5 separate regions of the Homo sapiens genome follow, and regions 1, 2, 3 and 5 are each reported to be linked to region 4. Evidence: microRNA targets listed by miRTarBase, many of them from high-throughput screens and not tested one by one. Region 4 holds a microRNA gene; each other region holds the end of a gene's coding sequence.

What was found. Region 4 holds the annotated microRNA hsa-miR-6780a-3p (CUCCUCUGUUUUCUUUCCUAG, at 1,135-1,155, opposite strand). A microRNA usually pairs through its seed, bases 2 to 8, with sites in the 3' UTR of a target mRNA and lowers its output. Matches are read on the target gene's strand: a 7mer-m8 pairs with bases 2 to 8, a 7mer-A1 pairs with bases 2 to 7 and ends in A, and an 8mer does both.
Region 1: the mRNA of CMKLR1 is a reported target of hsa-miR-6780a-3p. Seed matches in the 3' UTR shown: 7mer-A1 at 1,175-1,181 and 7mer-A1 at 3,729-3,735.
Region 2: miRTarBase lists AMZ1 as a target of hsa-miR-6780a-3p. Seed matches in the 3' UTR shown: 7mer-A1 at 3,744-3,750 and 7mer-m8 at 933-939.
Region 3: miRTarBase lists TIPARP as a target of hsa-miR-6780a-3p. Seed matches in the 3' UTR shown: 7mer-A1 at 3,270-3,276.
Region 5: the mRNA of TAS2R4 is a reported target of hsa-miR-6780a-3p. Seed matches in the 3' UTR shown: 8mer at 1,043-1,050 and 7mer-A1 at 1,571-1,577.

The regions. Positions count from the first base shown.
Region 1 is chr12:108,288,378-108,292,495 of GRCh38, reverse strand. CMKLR1 (chemerin chemokine-like receptor 1) reads left to right here. Exons shown (of 4, transcript NM_001142343.2): 4 at 1-4,118. The coding sequence ends at 655. Among named protein-coding and RNA genes, the nearest start is that of CMKLR1, 49 kb to the left of the region's middle.
Region 2 is chr7:2,712,601-2,716,718 of GRCh38, reverse strand. AMZ1 (archaelysin family metallopeptidase 1) reads right to left here. Exons shown (of 7, transcript NM_001384743.1): 7 at 1-4,118. The coding sequence ends at 3,841. Among named protein-coding and RNA genes, the nearest start is that of AMZ1, 26 kb to the right of the region's middle. RefSeq lists an enhancer at 1,093-1,142 and a silencer at 3,378-3,577.
Region 3 is chr3:156,704,909-156,709,019 of GRCh38, reverse strand. It overlaps TIPARP (TCDD inducible poly(ADP-ribose) polymerase), which reads right to left. Exons shown (of 6, transcript NM_015508.5): 6 at 2,250-4,111. The coding sequence ends at 3,889. Among named protein-coding and RNA genes, the nearest start is that of TIPARP-AS1, 31 kb to the right of the region's middle.
Region 4 is chr17:42,706,950-42,711,067 of GRCh38, forward strand. It overlaps MIR6780A (microRNA 6780a), which reads right to left and starts at 1,202; the gene lies at 1,135-1,202. It overlaps EZH1 (enhancer of zeste 1 polycomb repressive complex 2 subunit), which reads right to left. Exons shown (of 21, transcript NM_001991.5): 13 at 2,897-2,988; 14 at 1,927-1,967; 15 at 1,009-1,134.
Region 5 is chr7:141,778,786-141,782,903 of GRCh38, forward strand. It overlaps TAS2R4 (taste 2 receptor member 4), which reads left to right. Exons shown (of 1, transcript NM_016944.2): 1 at 1-2,906. The coding sequence ends at 603. Among named protein-coding and RNA genes, the nearest start is that of TAS2R4, 4.2 kb to the left of the region's middle.

The DNA.
Region 1 (4,118 bases), not on the chromosome of region 4:
TTACATGGCCTGCATGGTCATCTGGGTCCTGGCTTTCTTCTTGAGTTCCCCATCTCTCGTCTTCCGGGACACAGCCAACCTGCATGGGAAAATATCCTGCTTCAACAACTTCAGCCTGTCCACACCTGGGTCTTCCTCGTGGCCCACTCACTCCCAAATGGACCCTGTGGGGTATAGCCGGCACATGGTGGTGACTGTCACCCGCTTCCTCTGTGGCTTCCTGGTCCCAGTCCTCATCATCACAGCTTGCTACCTCACCATCGTGTGCAAACTGCAGCGCAACCGCCTGGCCAAGACCAAGAAGCCCTTCAAGATTATTGTGACCATCATCATTACCTTCTTCCTCTGCTGGTGCCCCTACCACACACTCAACCTCCTAGAGCTCCACCACACTGCCATGCCTGGCTCTGTCTTCAGCCTGGGTTTGCCCCTGGCCACTGCCCTTGCCATTGCCAACAGCTGCATGAACCCCATTCTGTATGTTTTCATGGGTCAGGACTTCAAGAAGTTCAAGGTGGCCCTCTTCTCTCGCCTGGTCAATGCTCTAAGTGAAGATACAGGCCACTCTTCCTACCCCAGCCATAGAAGCTTTACCAAGATGTCATCAATGAATGAGAGGACTTCTATGAATGAGAGGGAGACCGGCATGCTTTGATCCTCACTGTGGAACCCCTCAATGGACTCTCTCAACCCAGGGACACCCAAGGATATGTCTTCTGAAGATCAAGGCAAGAACCTCTTTAGCATCCACCAATTTTCACTGCATTTTGCATGGGATGAACAGTGTTTTATGCTGGGAATCTAGGGCCTGGAACCCCTTTCTTCTAGTGGACAGAACATGCTGTGTTCCATACAGCCTTGGACTAGCAATTTATGCTTCTTGGGAGGCCAGCCTTGACTGACTCAAAGCAAAAAAGGAAGAATTCTCAAAAGCATTGCCATGAACTGGGATTGGCATAGGGCGGTGGGATTAAGCTGCCTATTGTGTGTGCCCCAGAAATGACACTCTCCAAGGTCCATTCCTGGTGTGAGCAGTGAGGGGGTCAGAGCAAACCCAGTGTGATGCAGATCACACTTGGCCCTTGTATATATATTATCAGTAGCTGGCCAGAAAACCCTACCTTCAAGTCACTGCTCTGTGTTAAAGTATGTGGAAATGCATAGGTGATCTGGGAGAGGAAGGTGACATATCAGCCCATGAACTCCATAGGCCATGAATTTGGCTTTCGGATCAGCTAGGAAGACAGAGAACTGGTCCTGAGAGGTCCTGTGGGCTCTTTGCAAGGGCAAGACAAGTGAGGGATGCAACGAGGACTTGAGATTTGGCAAAGAAATGAGAAAGGAGAAAAGAACCTTTAAAGGATGCAGGCATGGAGCAGCTCACCCTAGAACATCGCAGGCTGATGGTGCTTTAGGCTGGAGCTATTTGGGGCGTCAGGGTGGTGCCAGCCCCTGATCTCACCTTGCCCCTCTTACCTGGGGGTGGGGTTGTGGCAGGCATCTTCACCAGCAGCCCTCACCCCATCACAGGGATTTTTTTCTGCCTTTCCTAATCCACTCAGCTCTGGCTGGAGGTGCTTAGAATAAAACACTGGTGGTGGGGCTTCTCATTCTGGTTAATTTCCTCAACGCCTTTGGAGACAGGTCCAAAATGCAGCTTTGGGAAGCAACTCCGGAGAGTCCCCTGGGAAGAAGAGTATGTCCGAGGACTCAGTCACTTGAGACAGAGTCTGGAGCTGGACTCCTTGAACTGTGTTTCTGAGCTGCAGACACCAAATACCTCCTGGATACAGGTGCCTGGCATGGCTTTTCTCATCTAATACTGACACGTCCCTGTGGCCACAGAGTGTCATAGCCCCATTTACAAATGACATAGCTGAGGCCCAGATGGGGAAAGTAACTTGCCCAGCATCACACAGCTAATCAGTGGCAGAGTTAAGATCTGAACCTGGCTCCGTCTGGCTCCAGAAACTCTGTTCTTCTATTTGGAATTTATCTGTGGAGATTATTCTAGTATATTGATAGCCTACATTTATTTAGCACTTTTTATATTATGCACTTTACATATGTTTTCTCATTTAATCATTACAGCAACCCTGAGTTAGGTATGGTTATAACTTCCCTTTTACATAGGAGGAATCTGAGGCTTAGAGAGGTTAAGTAACTTGCCCAAAGGTACCCAGCTAGTCTCTGCCGGAGCTTGGATTTGAACTTCAGTTTGCCTGGCTCAAATGAGGCTGCAGAGTTGGGAAGGACTTAAAAAGTTTGGAGATTTTTGCCATAAATATTGATTTTTCTGCAAATGAGGATGAACATCTTAATGGCCTTTAAGAAACTTTGCAAATAGTTTTCAAAAATGATGCAACATGGCAGAGAAAATGCACTTGGCTTCCAGCTCCCTCAACAGCCATTAACAGCCTCCTACCGTGGCTCCCACCTCCTATGTCTCCAGAGATCAAGGCAATGGGGAGGGAAAGCTGGCAGGAGGCAGTCCCTTGTGGGCCTGAGGCCCTTTGGCTCCTAAGTGTCCACATTCTGTTCTCTTCCAAGTCCCTTCATTGTTAAGCTGATTCTCCAACAAGATGCAATGAACAGATGCAATGTCTACCCCGCGCTGGGCGAGTTCCCGAGGCCATGGGCTGTTTGGAATCACACTTCATTAAGAGACAAACTGTTCCTTCCCTTATTGTGCCTTAATGCTTATGACAAGGCAGCTCTGAATTGATCCCAAGCTGGAGCCTCTGAATGCTTTAAAGAGTTTGAATATAGACGGTTTGAGAGCAAAAAGGGAGCTTTAAATATTGCTCAGTGGCCCCCATCTCCCCTCTTCCCACATTTACTGAGGCACGAGATGGGATGGGACCTGTCCCGGGTCACAGCAGCAGTCGTCAGCGCCTTGGCCCTCCTGGCTTGTAGGATGCTGCTTTTCCTGGGCTTCTGGCAGTCCAGGCCAGGATGGGGGAGCCAGGAATTCATGTTGTCATTGGAAAAGCTGATAAACAGGAGCACAATTCAAACCGGCTGTTTTCCTCCTTAGAGTCTGGCCTCCCTCTTTCTGGCTGCTCTGTGGGTCTTCCTGTTCTGACTTAGGTTCCTGTCAAGTACTTAAATGCAGCCTTAACATCCCATACAGTCTTGTCCCCACAGCTTCATGTGAACATCTCCATGGGTCATGCATATATCGTCCCTGCAGTGTGCAAAGTGTGCTCACCTGCACTGCTGCACAGGCAACCAACATACTTAGTGCCCAGAGCCTTCTCTCTGGGCCCAGGACTCAGTGATGGGGCCTTACTTAGCCCTGCCTCCTGGGTGGGGTGGGGGAGCTGAGGGATCGTGAGGACAAGAGGTAGAGGGAAAAGAAAAGAAGATGGTGTTTGAGGATAGGGGAGGGACAGGAGAGGGGACAGAAAGGTCCCAGAGCATGATGATGAAGGAAAGGGATCTGGCATTCATGAAGCACCTACGATGGTTCAGGCACAAACACTGAAACCTCAAATTGGCCCTGGCAGAAGGGGACCATCATAGCAAGGTGGGGGGGGGGTGCAGAAAGTGAGTTTCTGTTTCAAGAACAGACTTCACTAGTTCAGAGTTGCACAGCTAGTGAGGTATGGAGCTGGGCTTTGAATCAGGTCAGCTGCCTGAATGCCCAACTTCTTCAGCCCTTGGAAGGAGAGGGTGGGGAGAAGAAGAAGGAAAAGACAAGGAAGAAAGAAAGAAGAGAGAAGGGGAGAGGAATGGAAGTCCAAAGAGTGGGAGGAATTTGATTTCAGAACCATCTCCAGCTGACCCTTGAGCCAGCAAGGACAGGGAGAAGGGAAGAGCAAGAACACGAAGGGCCTCAAGCACCGGGATGCCTTTGCCAGCCTTAGATAATTCCCAGAGCGCACAGAGCCCTGCAGGTTCCTGGGTCCTTCTCCAGAGAAGAGGCACAGAGATTCTGGCAGCAAGGTTCAGAAGGGGTGAGGAAACTGGGCACTGACAAAGGGAGGGGATTGGCTCAAATTCGACCCCAGAGTCAGCTCTGGTGGGGTTGGGAGCCTGGATGGGTGGGAGAAGATAGAATCCAATCGTGAAAACCATAAGGGACCTTCAAACTCATCTTGCCCAGATGTCTCCCA
Region 2 (4,118 bases), not on the chromosome of region 4:
TGGGCCTTGGGCAGGGCAGCCGGTCCCTCTCTCCGAGGCCTGGCCGTCCCTGCCTGGTGGGTCTGCAGAGCAGCTCCCTTGGCACTGTATGGAGACCCTCTGCGTGTAGGTGTGTCCCTGGAATGTTCTAGCCTCCCCCTTTGAACTTGGTGGGATCTAAATTTGGACTCCCAGCTTTATCACTCGTGCTTGACTAAGCCATTTTATGTTTAAGGCTTTTGGAGATTTCGTTCATCGGGGAAAGGTCTGAAGCAAATATTAACAGGTCGGCATCCCTCCCTCCTCACCCATGCTCTGGAAACGGGTGGTGGCAGAGCTCCACTCACTGTCCCGTGCCCTCAGGGTTCACACCATGGACAGGAGTCAGGATGCTGCTTCTCCCCTCTCCCCACTCTGACAATGAGTTTGGGCTTTTTGGGGAGGAAGAGAGGGAAAAGAATGAGATTTCGGAAGAGGACTGCGGGGCTGCCTGAAGAGAGATTTGCCTCAGAGGGGACACTGCTTCTCACCCCTTCATCATAGCATGGCTGTGACGTGGGAGTGTGTATTCTAGCCACTTCAGAAGGCATGTGTTAGCTTCCCCAGACTCATCGCACACACAGCAATACAGATAACATCTGTCATGACCTGAAACTATTTTTAGCTCCATGAGGCCCCGCTGACTTGGCTTACCAAGATGGGTGAGGCTCTCCGAAGAGAGGTCATCGTCAAGCTGGAAGACCCATCCTTGTGAATGCAGGGGCTTCTGACAGATGAGACGAGAAAGCAATTCAGTGGACTTTGCACGTGTTTAAAAACTGAAAGAACCGTGGCCCTGTGTGTCTTGGAAACCATCATCTCTAAATTTAATCTCAGTTCAACTTCTGCAGCACTTAAGTTTAGAAAGATTCGTGAGCTGTGACCTTCCTCGAGAAGGCAGCCCTCATTCTCTCTCCTCTGCCTTGCGTCTTTCCTGGTGACTGTCCCAAGTCACTCTTCACCACAGCACAGACAGAACCTGGGGCTAACACGGGGGAGAGGAGGGAAACCAATTTCTCTTCCTCAAAGTTGCATTTCAAAACAGTCCTTCTAACAGCTGTCTTAAAAAATTTCACTGACATCTGCAAGTTGGTAAACGCTGCGGATAAAAGGAGTTTTTTTTAGTGGTTTGCTCCTTCCCACTTCAAAACGCTTTTTTGGGACACACATCACAGCTGAGGGTCAAAGGACACGGGTACAGAGAGCGCCGAGGCTTTGGTCATAACCCCAGTGGGCTCCCACCCTCAGCATGAGCCAGGCATTCTATTTTTATCACCTCTGTTTAATCTCGCATCACTCCAGCGGTTAACCTTTTGCAGAAGATGAAGGAAATCGGAAAACAGGTCAGGCCACCTCGCAGGTGCACCAGCCAAATCCCCACAGTGAACGCCGAGTGGGGCTGACTGACTGTTCATGAATGGCCACAGCAATATTGTGTTGTCTCACATTCCCTGCCACGTCCCCTCCCCGTGAACCTGGGGTGGGGTCCTTGTCACTGCCGCCGTGGAGTGCAGGAAAGGTGACGCTCTGTGACGTGAGGCCGAGTTAGGAAAGGCCACAGAGCTTCCATCTGACCCTCCCGATGTCCACCTTAGGAGGGCAACCGCCATATTGTGAGGAAGCCCAGGTCCCTTTCTGAAAGTGACCCTCTTTTTTTCGTCTCCCCTCTTTATTCTGGCACAGTTACCTCCCAGGTCACTGTCATGCCCTTTAGAAGCCATGCAAAAGAGAAGGGTATGGATGAAGGTCCTAATGCTACATCTGAGCTTCTCTGAAATCAACACATACTTGTCCCTTTGCATTTTCCGGGACTGGGACCAGGAGCCTGCTGTCTGGCTCTGGCTGCCCTGTTTGTCGGGTTTCCTCACGGTATGGCAGCTGCCTTCCTAAGAAGATGCCCCTCCTCCATGGAGAGTCTCACGTGGGCAGGAACCAAGGCCTGAGATTCCCAGCCAAATTCCACTTGGCAGCCGTGTGAACGAACACTCCAGTCGAGCCACAGGGGCAAACCGTCTCCACCGAGCTCTGCCCAAGTTACAGATTCATGAGCTAGACTGTGGTGATTTTAAGCCACTAAGTTTTGGGTGGTTGTTTGCAGCAACAGCCACCAGGCTCCGGCTTTCACCTTCTGTTACTGCAGGGTGCTCTGCCGGCACCTTCCATTGGTCACTTTCTGAAAGGCCTAGCTCTTCATCTCCCCTCCCAGGTCACTGTTACGCCTTTTTGAAGCTACGCAAAAGAGAACGGGACGAAGATCCTAATGCTACTTCTGAGCTGCATCTTTGCTTCTCTGAAGTCAACACGGAGTGGGACCAGGACCGGGAGCCTTCAGTCGGCCTCCACCAATGTCAGATTCACAAGGAAGCCTCAGCCCACCTCACCTGCATAGCCCTTCTAGTTTTAGTTTTGTATTTTGTTTTTCTTAGAAGCCCTCCATAACCGTGTGAGCCACCCACCCACAAAAGGTCCAAGCTGCCCTGTTCTTGCCTCTCTCCAGATGAGGGTGCGCGAGCTGTGACCCCGCCCTCGTCACTCCGAAGGGATTCCGCTGTCAGAACCGGAAGTCTCTCTCCCAGAGACCCTCCACCACAGGCTGAGGGGGTACGTGTGACAATAAAAGGGTCAATTCCTCAGGAAGACACAACAATCAAATGTGCAGGGACGTAAAGGAGCTTCAAAGTGCAGGAAGCAAAATCCGGCAAAACTAAAGGGAGACAGATCAAACGCCCAGCCATGGCAATAATACCCCTCTCTCAGCAACTGACAGAACTAGACCGAAAAAAAAAGGAAAGACAGATCATCTGATCACCACCTCCAGCTACTTGGTACTGACAGCGCGGCCACCTTTGCCAAGAAACTGTCCCAAAAACATCACCACAGTTGATCTTCCCCACGGTGAGCTGTAGCCGCCTCAGGAATAAGGGGGCCTCTGCCCTCAGTGCACGTCAGACACCCTCACCTCCTGCAGTGTTTGTCAGAAGAGATGCCTGGAGAGCCCCGGTGAAGTCCGTCAGGATCAGGATGCTGTTAGCGCCACAGAACGTGACAGTGTGTGTGTGCATGTGGTTGACGCCTGAGATGATAGAGACAAAACCCCGTCACTTCCCCGTTAGGGAGGAGACTCAGCCTTGGAAGCTGGGTGGCAGTGTGGAGCCTGTGTGCCCCCGGGGTCACTCCTCATCTGAGCCAGCCTCTCCAGCTCCAGCTATAAATAACTGAAGGGCAGGCCCACAGCCTGGAAGGAGACAGGACGCACGCTGCTTCCTTCTGCCTCTGCAGGGGAGGGGGCTCTGTCCCAACCTCAGCACAGTCCGGCTTGTACTCCACGAGAAGCACCCAGGATCAGGGAGGCCTCTCCATGTGTGCAGGCCCCTGGGAGCGGCTGGCTGGGACTCAGGAGTTGAAGGAGGCGCCTGAAGACAGGTGGTCTGTGGCTTCTCCAAAGAACTTTTTTTTTTCTGGAGACAGTCTTTCTGTGTGGCCCAGACTGCAGTACAGTGGTATGATCACATCCCACTGCAGCCTCGACCTCCTAGGCTCAAGCAATCCTCCCACCTCAGCCTCCTGAATAGCTGGGAACACAGGCATGAACCACTTCATCCAGCTAATTTTTTAATTTTTCTTTTGTAGAGGCAGAGTCTCACCATGTTGCCCAGTCTGGTCTCAAACTCCTGGCCTCTCAAAGTGATGGGATGACAGGCCTGAGCCACCACCCAGGCAGACCCTTCCTCTTTATCCCTGGCAGGTCAGTAGTGGCCTCAGCTACTGGACAGTGCTGGCCAGCATCCTTAGGGAAGGAGACGTAGGGCAGCCCCTGCTGTACTAACTCTCTTCCCCATCCCAGGGACGGGGGGCCGACTCTGCTCTGGCGAGTTTTCGGGCACTCAGCTTCCTCCTCAGGGAGGAGAACTTGTCCCCCAGCACCTTGCGCAGCCCCACGCTGTCCCTGCTGCTGGGTGGGTCCTGCCTGGTGGCCGGGAGCTGGCCCGTGAACATCTCCCAGCGGTCGAGGGCGTCCACGGCTCTGTCCACCTGCACCAGGTCCTCCTCTGCCACTTCCCGCTGCAGGGCCTGGATGCACATGGCCAGCCACCGTTCAT
Region 3 (4,111 bases), not on the chromosome of region 4:
ATGCTGATGAAATCTTTCAATAGCATCTTTTTCTTTCTATAATGATGGCTTACAAGTAAGATTAGAAAGTTAAAGAAGGTAAAAAGCACTGTTTAATTTCTTTAACTTGGCCATAATAAGAGTACTTAAATCAACAAACTAGATGGGACTGTTTTTAAAACTATCTTTTAATGGAAAATGTATCTGGCTTTTAATTTGTAAGTACATGCTATAAGTTGTTTGTATAGCACTTTACAAAAAATTTTTGCATTGTAGTGTTTTAAAGTTAGATAGTCTCATCATTTATAGTCATTTAAAAAAGTCAAAGATGAGAAAGATGAGAAAACTAACCATGTGGTAAGGTTAAGTGATTTGTTCAAGGCTGTATAGTTTAGTTACAATAGAAGAGCTTAAGTTATTTTTTTAAAACCGCATGGTAATAGCAACAACATACGTGGTATGGATTAGATTCCAGAAAAGTACTATGTAGGATTTTCTAAAATGTGTTTTGACTGTTAGATTCAAACTAAGGAAATCTAGAAACATCTTGCAGTAATCTTACTTTCCTTAAATGAAGGAGGAAAAAACCTCTCTTTAAACTGACAGTATGGTATTGGATTCCTATTTAGTCATTTTCAGACCTTATATAATAAAATTTCTTTACAAGTATATCAGGCCCTAGTGACTTTTTATAACCAACTAATTGTTTACTAAAACAAACAGGTTTGTAACAAGGTGCAGAGATGGGTATTAGATTCATAATACCAAGGATCCAATATTTATAAACTTTGGACACATACAAAATCTTCCTGTCTATAGGATTGTATGACTGGAATCTCAGGGAGTTTGTAGACTCTCTTTTCCTGGAAATCTTAACCATAGTTTAAGAGCAAGTTCCAGCTTCTTGAAATGGTGTAAATTACAGCTGTGCTGGTAGAAGTTACTGAATGCCTTTTAGTATGTTTTAAATCCATAGAACCATTACAAAATTTAGACTGACTTGGTAGTTATTACTTAGTTAAAACAACATACGATGCTATTACAGGGATATAAAAATCATTACACTGGGGCTAAAAGCACTGTTAGAAATGCTTATGTATACTAATCAGATGACTTTGCTAGCTGGCTGAAATCTAAGGGGCTTTGAGAGCTGATGAGACTTCTACAATTCCATTCCCCCACTTTTTTTTTCTTGAGACAGTTTCACTCTGTTGCCCAGGCTGGAAGTCAGTGGCACAATCTCGGCTCACTGTACCTCTGCATCCTGGGCTTAAGCCTCAGCCCCCTGAGTAGCTGGGACCACAGGCACACATAACCGCACCCGGCTAATTTCTCTATTTTTGTAGAGACGGGGTTTCGCCATGCTGCCTAGGCTGGTCTCAAACTCCTGAGCTCAAGCAATCCGCCTGCCTTAGCCTCCGAAAGTGATGGGATTATAGGCATGAACCACCATGCCTGGCCATACAAATCCTTTTTATATTTCCTTCACACCCAGTGAAAGGGACAACCTGCTTATGTTTTTCTCTGCAGCTGTCTGCTGATACAGATTGAGTTTCCCTTATGGGAAACACCTGGGACTAGAAGTGTTTCGGATTTCAGGTTTTTAAGTATTTGTGTATTTCCCAGTTGAACATTCCTAATCTGAAAATCCAGAATCTGGTATGTTCCAATGAGCATTTTCTTTCAGTATCATGTTGATGCTCAAAAAGTTTTGGAGGCCAGGTGCAGTGGCTCACACCTGTAATCCCAGCACTCTGGGAGGCCAAGGTGGGAAGATCACCTGAGGTCAGGAGTTTGAGACCAGCCTGGCCAACACGATGAAACCCTGTCTGTATTAAAAGTAATAATTAAAAAAAAATCAGCCGGGCATAGAGGCGGTTGCCTTAATCCCAGCTACTCAGGAGGCTGAGGCAGGAGAATCGCCTGAACCTGGGAGGTGGAGGTTGCAGTGAGCCAAGATCGCACCACTGCACTCCAGCCTGGCGACAAAGCAAGACTCCGCCTCAAAAAAAAAAAAAAAAAAAACTTTTCCATTTCCTCCAAGTATTACCTGCAAAATAAAATATTGATTCTTCTCTTGTAAATGATAATGGGCTGCTAGATAATGTACTTTCTGTAGATTCACACTGCAGAAAAGTTTAAGCAGCAAGTTCTGGTTAGGTCTGTTCATTCAGTCACTCAATCATACATTTAACCAACCAATCAACATTTACAGATCACCAACTATGTATTAATCCAGTGATCTTAAATGGAACCAAAACAACAACAAATTTTAAAGAATTACCATAAGTTTTATTTTTGCTTAGTTTTATTAAAAAAATAAATATGTCATAAAGCTTTCTTTTTCCTTAGGGAGAAAAAAAGGAACAAGTCTCATAAAACCAAATAAGCAATGGTAAGGTGTCTTAACTTGAAAAAGATTAGGAGTCACTGGTTTACAAGTTATAATTGAATGAAAGAACTGTAACAGCCACAGTTGGCCATTTCATGCCAATGGCAGCAAACAACAGGATTAACTAGGGCAAAATAAATAAGTGTGTGGAAGCCCTGATAAGTGCTTAATAAACAGACTGATTCACTGAGACATCAGTACAGATACATCTTGCTTAAACAACACAGAAGTTCCTGAAAAGTTTTGTGTAAATGATATAACCACAAACATTACCAGGAGAGCTTGGTAACTGAAAGAATTCCATGGCGAATTCTTTTGTGAACAACTACTTTCACTTTTGTAAATCCAGGTATTTGCTTTTTATAAGGAGTTTACCTAGTTGCTACCTCTCTGAACTGAGGAAACAGCATATTCACCAAACGTTGTGCTCCAGCTGGACCACTGGCACAATTTCCAAGTTTGTGTTTCTATTAAGTAAGTAGTGTAAGTAAGGTACAGAGTCAGCCAGGGAACCCAGCTGTATCTGACAAAGCAGGTGTAGGAGTGGGACTGCCATCTACCAATAATTCCAGCAAATACTTTTGCTAATATACTTTGTGCAAAACACAGTAATAACCTTATCAATTTGGCTATAGATGTACTTCCTTTTTCTAAAACTTTCAGTCACAAGCTAGGTCTGGAACCCGAAAAGGAAGTAATACTTCTAACCCTCAAGACTGCCTTTAACCAAATTAGCTGCCCAACTCCTTCAAATTGGAATGGATGATAATGAAAGAGACTGAGTTTTCCAAAGCTGAAGTTTAACAACACAAAAATCACATTTCATATCACTAATTAGTGAAAAGTTTTGCTGGTGACAAAAATTTTTCAAATGGTTGTTTTTTGTTGTTGTTTTAACTTCCTCTAAATAGAACTCTGAATTCTGGGGCAAACTCTGCAGAAGTTAAAGTCACTGATGTTCTCTGGTTGGCTGATACATTTTAGTACTGCTGATAGAAATAAAAATTTCTTTCTACCCACCAGAATTTCATGAACTTATACTATACCAAAGCAGTGATGCTTTGGACAGGGAATACGCATGGTAGTACTAGTTCCAGTAAGTTTTATCAAACGTAAATAAATAAATAGAATCCTCACATTGCTCACAGCCTCCATTCCATTTGGTCAAACTTCTACCAGGCCCAAGCCACATTTAAATTAGGCTGTTCAGTTTTTTAATTTAATGCTCCTAATAACATTGCTGTCTATATGTACAAGTGTGAATGAAAAGAGTGTGTAATCTGTAGTCTTTTCCACACTGAGTACACTAGCAATTAGTAAATAATTAAAGAGTAAGTGGTCATTTTAAAACTTGTATTTTTTTTTTAAAAAAAGCATTTTCTAGCACTTTAAAAAATGGGTCTGAAAAGTGCCCTATTAATGTCCAATGCTGTTCCCCACCCAGTCCCACCCATTCAAAACCTGCTACAAATGCTGGATTGAGTTCATATCAAATAATTTAGCAGTACCAAGATTTTTCAAATGGAAACAGTGTTACTGACTTCTTCATATTGGATAACAAAATAAGGGTAACTCTGGTCATCATTAAAAATGACAAAAATCTGAGGCTCAAAGAAATTATCCACACAAGAGTCATAAAGGTCACTGGTGACACTGCCAGGATTGACTGGCGGGGGCCTTCTCATGCCATGACTGCCCATTGTGTATCTGCCCGTCAGCACTTTGGCCAGAAACATGAAG
Region 4 (4,118 bases):
ATGGGTTAGGAGGTATTTCCTCCAGCAAAACCGCCTGGGCACCAAGTTCTGCAAGCTGTGGGGACTGCCATCAAACTGCTCAGCTTTGAGTTGGGAAGGGCATGGTGGGATAAGAAGTAAAAGATAAGTACCCGGATGTCTCTGCTGACATCCAGGCCCCTGTCTTCTACCTGATATTAAAACTCCAGCTATGAAATGAAAATAGACATACACAGAATCACAAACAAAAAATATCTGAATAAAAAATTTTTTAAAACAGTATTCAGAAAAGGGAAACTGGGGCTGTAACTTAAAAAAAAAAAAAAGAGTCCCACATTTCTTTTCTTTTTGAGACAGAGTCTTGCTCTGTTGCCCAGGCTGGAGTGCAGTGGCACAATCTTGGCTCACTGGCAGCCTCTGCCCTCTGGGTTCAAGCAGTTCTTGTGCCTCAGCCTCCCAAGTAGCTGGGACTACAAGCATGTACCACCATGTCTGGCTAATTTTTGTATTCTTAGTAGAGACGGGGTTCACCATGTTGGCCAGGCTGGTCTTGAGTCCTGACCTTAAGTGATCTGCCCGACTTGGCCTTCCAAGTGCTGGGATTATAGGCGTGAGCCACCACACCTGGCCTAATTTTTTTATTTTTAGTAGAGATGAGGTTTCGCCAAGTTGGCCACGCTGGTCTTGAACTCCTGACCTCAAGTGATCCGCCTACCCAAAGTGCTGGGATTACAGGCGTGAGTGACTGCGCCTGCTGCCCCCCACATTTCTTAATTCTCCCCTAGAAGACAAAGTTGGGAAAGTATCTGATTTCTGTGTAATTGCTGCTTTTAGAATCATGAACCTAAACGTTTTCCAGAAACGACTCTCCCAGATCTCATGCACTTATTTCATTTGTAGAATCCCTAAAACACAGCAAAGGGGATATCAGAAGGCCATAAGCAGTAAAGGGCACAGGAATGGGGCAAGCCTAGGGCACACTGGAGCCAACTGTTTTGGTAGACTATACAGAAAACGTAGCACACTTACAGTCTGGGTTGCACTGGCAGAACTTCTCACAGAAATTCTGAGTCATGATGCAGGGGCAGGTGCTGTCACAGGGGCGGTCTGGGTGGTCGCAGGGTTGGTAGTTGTACACTTGTGTGGAAGAGTTATCTAGGAAAGAAAACAGAGGAGGATGCTGCTGTGACCATACTCTCCAGCTGTCTTCCCTCCCAAGTGTCCAGCTGCCCTGATTCAGAGGAGGCTGGTCCTAACAATCTCCTTGGACACACATTTAGCACCTGAAGTGAGAAGACAGGGATGACCGTTGTTCATAAGCTGCAGTGGGGTGATCTGCTTTGTGGGGAGGGTGTGGAGATGGTCTGGGACAACAGGGAAGCTATTCTAAACATTAAATGAGGTCTGGAACCTAGCAAATGGCACACTAGAAAAGTCACATACTGGCCAGGCACAGTGGCTCACGCCTGTAATCCCAGCACTTTGCGAGGCCGAGGCAGGTGGATCATTTGAGGTCAGGAGTTCGAGACCAGCCTGGCCAACATGGTGAAACCCCGTCTCTACTAAAAATACAAAAATTAGCCAGGCATGGTGGTACATGCCTGTAATCCCAGCTACTTGGGAAGCTGAGGCAGGAGAATTGCTTGAACCCGGGAGGCGGAGGTTGCAGTGAGCCAAGATTGTGCCACTGCACTCCAGCCTGGGTGACAGAGCGAGGCTCCATCTCAAAAAAAAGAAAAATCACAGACCACAAGGCCCTTAATGTTACCTCCTAAGAGGTCTTCTCAGTTGCAGTGAGAGGCTCAGCTGTTCTCAGTTGCTGCAGAGAATTCTGCAATCTGCGGAAGTGGCACAGGGTCAACAAGTGCAGCTGGAGGTGGGGTAGGGTGATGACCACAGAGTGAGGCCTCCAGCTGAACTGCTGAAGAATGCCCTGGTAGAACTTACCTTTCTTCAGCTGAATCTTCCTGCAGTGTGCAGCCCACAATCTGAAAAAGACAGGAAGGACAGGTCTCAGTCACGGCCCTAGGGAGCTCTGCAAATGCAGGTAAATGACAACGTGACTTGCTCTGAGGGACTGTGTTTGATGACTGGGGAGTATCTTCCCAAACCCCTCAACAGGACGACTTTGGTACACAGAAGCTAGAGTCCATCCTAAATCCAGCTGGCCTGTGCTACAAGAGTTAAACTTAAACACAACCCCTCCCAAACAAGCAAATAACATAAAAGAACACAACACAGAAATAAAAGAAAGCCCAAGCCTATTGGTCTATTATAAAGCTATTGTTTCTCTCCAAATCTCTCCCTTTGTCTTTGTGGAGGTGGAGATATGGGGGAGTTTCAAGATGGGGAGGTGGGAAGGCCTTTCAGGAATCTTCTCTGAAAGAACTGAAAGGGAGGAGCCACAGGGATTTCCTTCTGTATCTAGAAGTGGTGTCAGCTCCTTCCTCTGATAGGTGATAGTCACTAGGGAACAGGGCCAGGGTGCAGAATTTTTTTAAAAACTTCCAACCTAAGTAAAGGCTATCATGTAACTCAGAAAAACAACACAAACCAAACAAATAAATAAACTCTGATCAGAGTTGAGAAATGGGTAAGGTGGTAACAAAACCAACAAGGAGAAATGGCTTCAGGGTGGAGCCATGAGGCCAGCTCATGTCCTATTGGCCAGAAGCTTAAATAGAAAAACAGACAGTTATGGTCCACAGCACTGGGGGACAAGAAGAGGGCTGATCTAAGGCACAGACCCTCAGGGAGCACTCAGGAGGCTGGCTCTCAGTCATGTGATGCCAAGCTGATGGGCTCACACAGCCTGTGCGGTTGCTAAAGAGGGAGGCAGATGGGAACTCCAAGGGGAGGTCAGAGCACAGGGAACAGCCTGGCTGTAAAACAAAACACTTTGTCCAACCCTTCTTGCCTGTGCTTTCTTTTCTTCTTCTGTGAGGGGTTCATGAGCTCATCTGTTGGCAGCTTCAGGATAAGTGATTCTTTGACTGCAAACTGAAAGACCTGGAAGAGAAATCCAACGGGCCTGTCACTCCTCGAGCAAGGGGGTCAGGTAAGTGGCCCAGCTGGGTGCTGGCCTTGGGAGGGTTCTGAGAAACTCAGGCAGCTGACCAAGCCTCTCATCAGTCAGGGAGAGACAGAGTGCCACTGGAACATTGGGTTACTGGCTCTGAAGTTCATTCCTAATTATTTATCCTGACTCAGGAAAGGAGAAATACTGAGCACAGTAATACCGCCCCTGGTCAGAAGCTGTCACCTACTACTCTTTCTACCAAGCCACGGGTAGAAGAGTGGGCTGACTGTGACCAACAGTATCTTCTTCTTTTTAGGAAGGGCAACGCTGTGCCTTGTGTAACTGAGTGTAAGGCAGGACAGGACAGGACAGGAATGGTTTCAGTGGGCTAAATATTAGCTCCCTCTGTCAGTATAAAGATACCGGAGCCTCAGCCATTTCAATAGGATGTGTTTTTTCTCTTAAAGCACTGGTTTTTAGTTTTTCCTTTTCTTTGTTGGGGCTATTGGCCCTTTGTGGGGGATCTTTGAAAACTGTAACTATTCTCAGGAAAATACAGACAAGAACATTCTTGCATACAAATCCATAGATGGTTACGTTGAGAACCTGTGATCAGGGAAATAGGTATGAGCTCCAAAATGAAAGCAAAGGGCACTTCAGCTCATGGTTCTGTTTTTGTTTGTTTTTTTTTTTTTTTTTTAAGAGAGAGGGTCTCATACTCTTGGCCAGGCTGGAGTGCAGTGGTGCCATCATAGCTCAATGTAGTATAGAACTCCTGGGCTCAAGCCATCTTCCCACCTCAGCCTCCTGAGTACTAGGACTACAGGTACGTGGCTTTTTTTTTTTTTTTTTTTTTGTAGAAATGGGGTCTCACTTTGTTGCCCACACTGGTCCTGAAATCCTGGCTTCAAGCGATCCTCCCACCATGGCTTCCCAAAGCACTGGAATTCTAGGTGTGAGCCACCTTGCCCAGTCCATGGTTCTATTAATTGTTCTCAGTACAGGAAGCATGAAGAAGAGGCCACAGAGTCTCCTCCAGAAGGTAGGAAGCCAAAGCATTGGGGTTCCTTTCCTGTTGGACATGCTGGCCCTGACAGCTGCCTCCTTGTCCCTGTTCTTC
Region 5 (4,118 bases), not on the chromosome of region 4:
ACCTTGCTCAATATCTTGTACTGTGTGAAGATTACTAACTTCCAACACTCAGTGTTTCTCCTGCTGAAGCGGAATATCTCCCCAAAGATCCCCAGGCTGCTGCTGGCCTGTGTGCTGATTTCTGCTTTCACCACTTGCCTGTACATCACGCTTAGCCAGGCATCACCTTTTCCTGAACTTGTGACTACGAGAAATAACACATCATTTAATATCAGTGAGGGCATCTTGTCTTTAGTGGTTTCTTTGGTCTTGAGCTCATCTCTCCAGTTCATCATTAATGTGACTTCTGCTTCCTTGCTAATACACTCCTTGAGGAGACATATACAGAAGATGCAGAAAAATGCCACTGGTTTCTGGAATCCCCAGACGGAAGCTCATGTAGGTGCTATGAAGCTGATGGTCTATTTCCTCATCCTCTACATTCCATATTCAGTTGCTACCCTGGTCCAGTATCTCCCCTTTTATGCAGGGATGGATATGGGGACCAAATCCATTTGTCTGATTTTTGCCACCCTTTACTCTCCAGGACATTCTGTTCTCATTATTATCACACATCCTAAACTGAAAACAACAGCAAAGAAGATTCTTTGTTTCAAAAAATAGTGGAATTTCAGTAAACAATACCTAGATTTACCTGATGGTTTGGGGGCAAGATTTTCTGTTTGCAGTTTTCCCAGTGATCTGGGGAATTCAGTTTTGTGATTGCTGATCTGACATCATAGGCTTTTGAGTGCCTGAATTTCAGTTCATTCTGTAATTTTTTTTTTTTGGTATGTAAGTATTTTAAAATAAGGCACATTCTGTAAGAAACTTTTTTGAGGCATTATTTGTCATGTATTTTGCATGGCCATTGAATCCATGTATAATGGAAATCATCACATTGTTTCATTGTCTATTGAAGTATAATGGGAAATTCTTCCAAATTAGAGAACACATTGGGGTGCACGTGATGAGTTAGATATTTGTGGTTTAGCTGAGGAGCCCTGAGTAAGGGCTCAGCAGTGGATAGGTGGTCACTGGGAGCCACTGGACTGACCGAAAGCAGAGGAAGGGGGTTCAGTGCAAAGAGAAAAGGAAAAAAGGAAGGTTTCAGAGAGAAAAGAAGGAAAGAGAAAGGTGAAGAGAAATAGGCGTACACTGGGCCAGGCGCGGTGGCTCATGCTTGTAATCCCAGCTCTTTGGGAGGCCGAGGCAGGTGAATCGTGAGGTCAGGAGATCGAGACCATCCTGGCTAACACGGTGAAACCCTGTCTCTACTAAAAATACAAAAAAATTAGCTGGGCGTGGTGGCGGGCACCTGTAGTCCCAGCTACTCGGGAGGCTGAGGCAGGAGAATGGCTTCAACCCAGGAGGCGGAGCTTGCAGTGAGATGAGATCGCGCCACTGCACTCCAGTCTGGGCGACAGAGCAAGACTCTGTCTCAAAAAAAGAAATAGACGTACACTCTGGGACAAGACAGAAAAAGTATCCTCACACTTGCTGGGTAATAGTAACTGTGCTATTCCTAGCAAGAAACCCTAAGGTTTCTAGGCTTGTTCTGGAAAAGAGGATATTGCCAGAGTTGGTAAGTAGAGGAAAGTGATTAGTATTTAAGAAACTGAATCAAGAATGGTTCCAAAAATCTTAAAATCCAGGGAAACCAGCTTAAGGTCAAAGGCAAGTGCTAGATAATGAAATTAACACCATATGAGTACAAATTTACAAAATACTGTACTTCACCATAGGCTATGGAACTCAGTGGAAAGCCAAAAAAGCACTGGACAGGTGGTGGGAGTGCTTGACTTGTGGTGAATTTATTTCATCTGCTTATACATTTGTACACAGCACAGTTCTTCTCCAGAATGTTGTTTCTGTGGCTGGGACCATTGGACTGTGGCTCCAAAAGAACAACAGTCTGAAGATGGGATGTTGACAAGTTTTGGAATGTCAATTGGGGAATCATAATTTGTATTTATTTAGGTTTTTTTTGGTGTTCATAAAATGCTTATGTAATATTTACATATGTCAAATAAATCTTAAAATTTTATAAATTACATGACTTTTCTCATTCTGGCCACCAGAATCTTGACTGCAATATTCAGTAAAAATTACCCAAGCCAATATTTTGTGCTATGAAACCTGGAGGTATTCATCATGTTAAATCCTAAGAGAGATAAAAGGATTACTGAGAGTGATTAAATGCATACTATGTCTTAAGAACTCTAAATGAGTGGCAGAAACCCTCATTGGTCCCTCAGTATCTGTTCTTTCTCCTCTCTTCCATAGTAATCAAATCATTAGCTGTTCAGAATTTTGGCAGCAAATTCCATTATTGCCATGTATGTGAGCAGAAAAGATGTATATAATTTCTGGGTGGTACTTCGGAGCAGTCCTACCTTCCCTTCTTTAATCTTTTCTTTGTTACTCCCTCCATGAGCTGGAATGCTGACATCATGATTGTCTATCTTGGACAATGCAGATGAGGTGAATGCTTGGGATAGTGAAGTAATTCTCCATCCTAGAGCTGGCTCCATGGTTCTTCACACTGTGGACTTGTAACACCAGCTCTGGACTGCTCAAGCCTGAACTCCAGGACTGTTGATGAGAAATCAGTGTCTCCATTCTTTCAGGTGCTGGAGTTTTGGTCTCTGTTACCTTAGTCAAATAACCTATGCTATACCTTAAATATACACAATAATATATATCTTTATGATGAAATAGTATGTATTTACCATCTTATTAGTCAAAGAACCTTTTTATATGACCTACTAAGTGAAATTGAAATAAAACCTGTACATGTGGTATAATACCATTTTTTTTGGTAAAAATGTGTACATATGAAGAAAAGTCTAAAAGGAAATATATAAAAATGTAAACAGTAATTATTTTAGGTGGGAGGAATCAATAAATTTTTTTGTGTATTTCAAGTTTTCTATAATGAACATTTTTATATAATCAAAAAATATTTTTAAATATATAATGTATATATGGTCTATCTATCTATCTATCTATCTATCTATCTATCTATCTATCTATCCATCCACCAACCCACTCACCTCCCTCCCTCCCTCCCTCCCTCCCTACTTACCTAAAAGACAGAGAGGGAGTTCTGAGGTCAACATCGAGTTTGTCCTCGCTAAGAAAGGTAAGTGAATTGTCTTGCTTTGTCTGGATTCTTTTTATTGTATTGGCAAAGTTCTGCCAATTTGTTTCCTGTTTGTCCTACACTGTCTTCAATTTTCCCCTCTCTGGGTTGGATGTGTTGTCTTTGTGTTAGGACTGTTTTTGCTGTTTGAAGAAAGTCTTCAGTCTTTGCTTAGGCACTTGCCCAAAGTCTCCCTTGGGTACAGTTTTTAAGAATGCTGTATGTTTAGAGTTTTGCTGGTTCTGATATGCTCTGCTAAATACCCACCACTAAGTACTTATTAACCAAGGATTTAAAACAATTTGGATTTTGGTTTGATTTTTTCAAGACACATAACTTAGAGGCTCTCTAATAAAAATAATATCCCGCATACCCCTCCCTTTCCTGCAGTAGGCAGAGCATAGAGGGAGGTTAAAAACTCTTTGTTAAGAAGTCACTTTCTGAAGTGGAGGGCAGGTGTCAGGACAGTGTACAACCTCATGAAACACCCATCGTGGTAACCAGAACTCAGGGTCATTGCCATTTAACTTTTAACTGCTACATGCCCAATACTGTATGAGCTACATTTCCACGTTATTATTTTAGTTGGTCATAACCTCTTTGGTAAGATAGCTATTATTGTCTCCATTATATAGTTGAGAAAATTAAGGCCCAAATAAGCCATATGAATGGTTCATAATAGCAGAACTAGGAAGGAATAGATCCAGAGCTCCCAGTGTAGTCTCTGAAAGTATGAAATTATTGTGGGTGCTTAGTTTCCTTAGCTGAAATGAATGTCATGGTGTCACATAGACTCTGGGCTTTTAGGCCTTGAGATTTATATGAGATATGTTTTTAAGTGAAAAAGTAGTAACATTAAAGAAGAAAAAATTATTAGATTTCTTTTGAATGTTGCTACTTGGGAAGGAATAGGCCAACAGAAATGTAATGAAAAGGTAGATACAATTTCTATAAGAACTAAATGAAATTCTTAAAAATTTCAAGGATTTTAAGA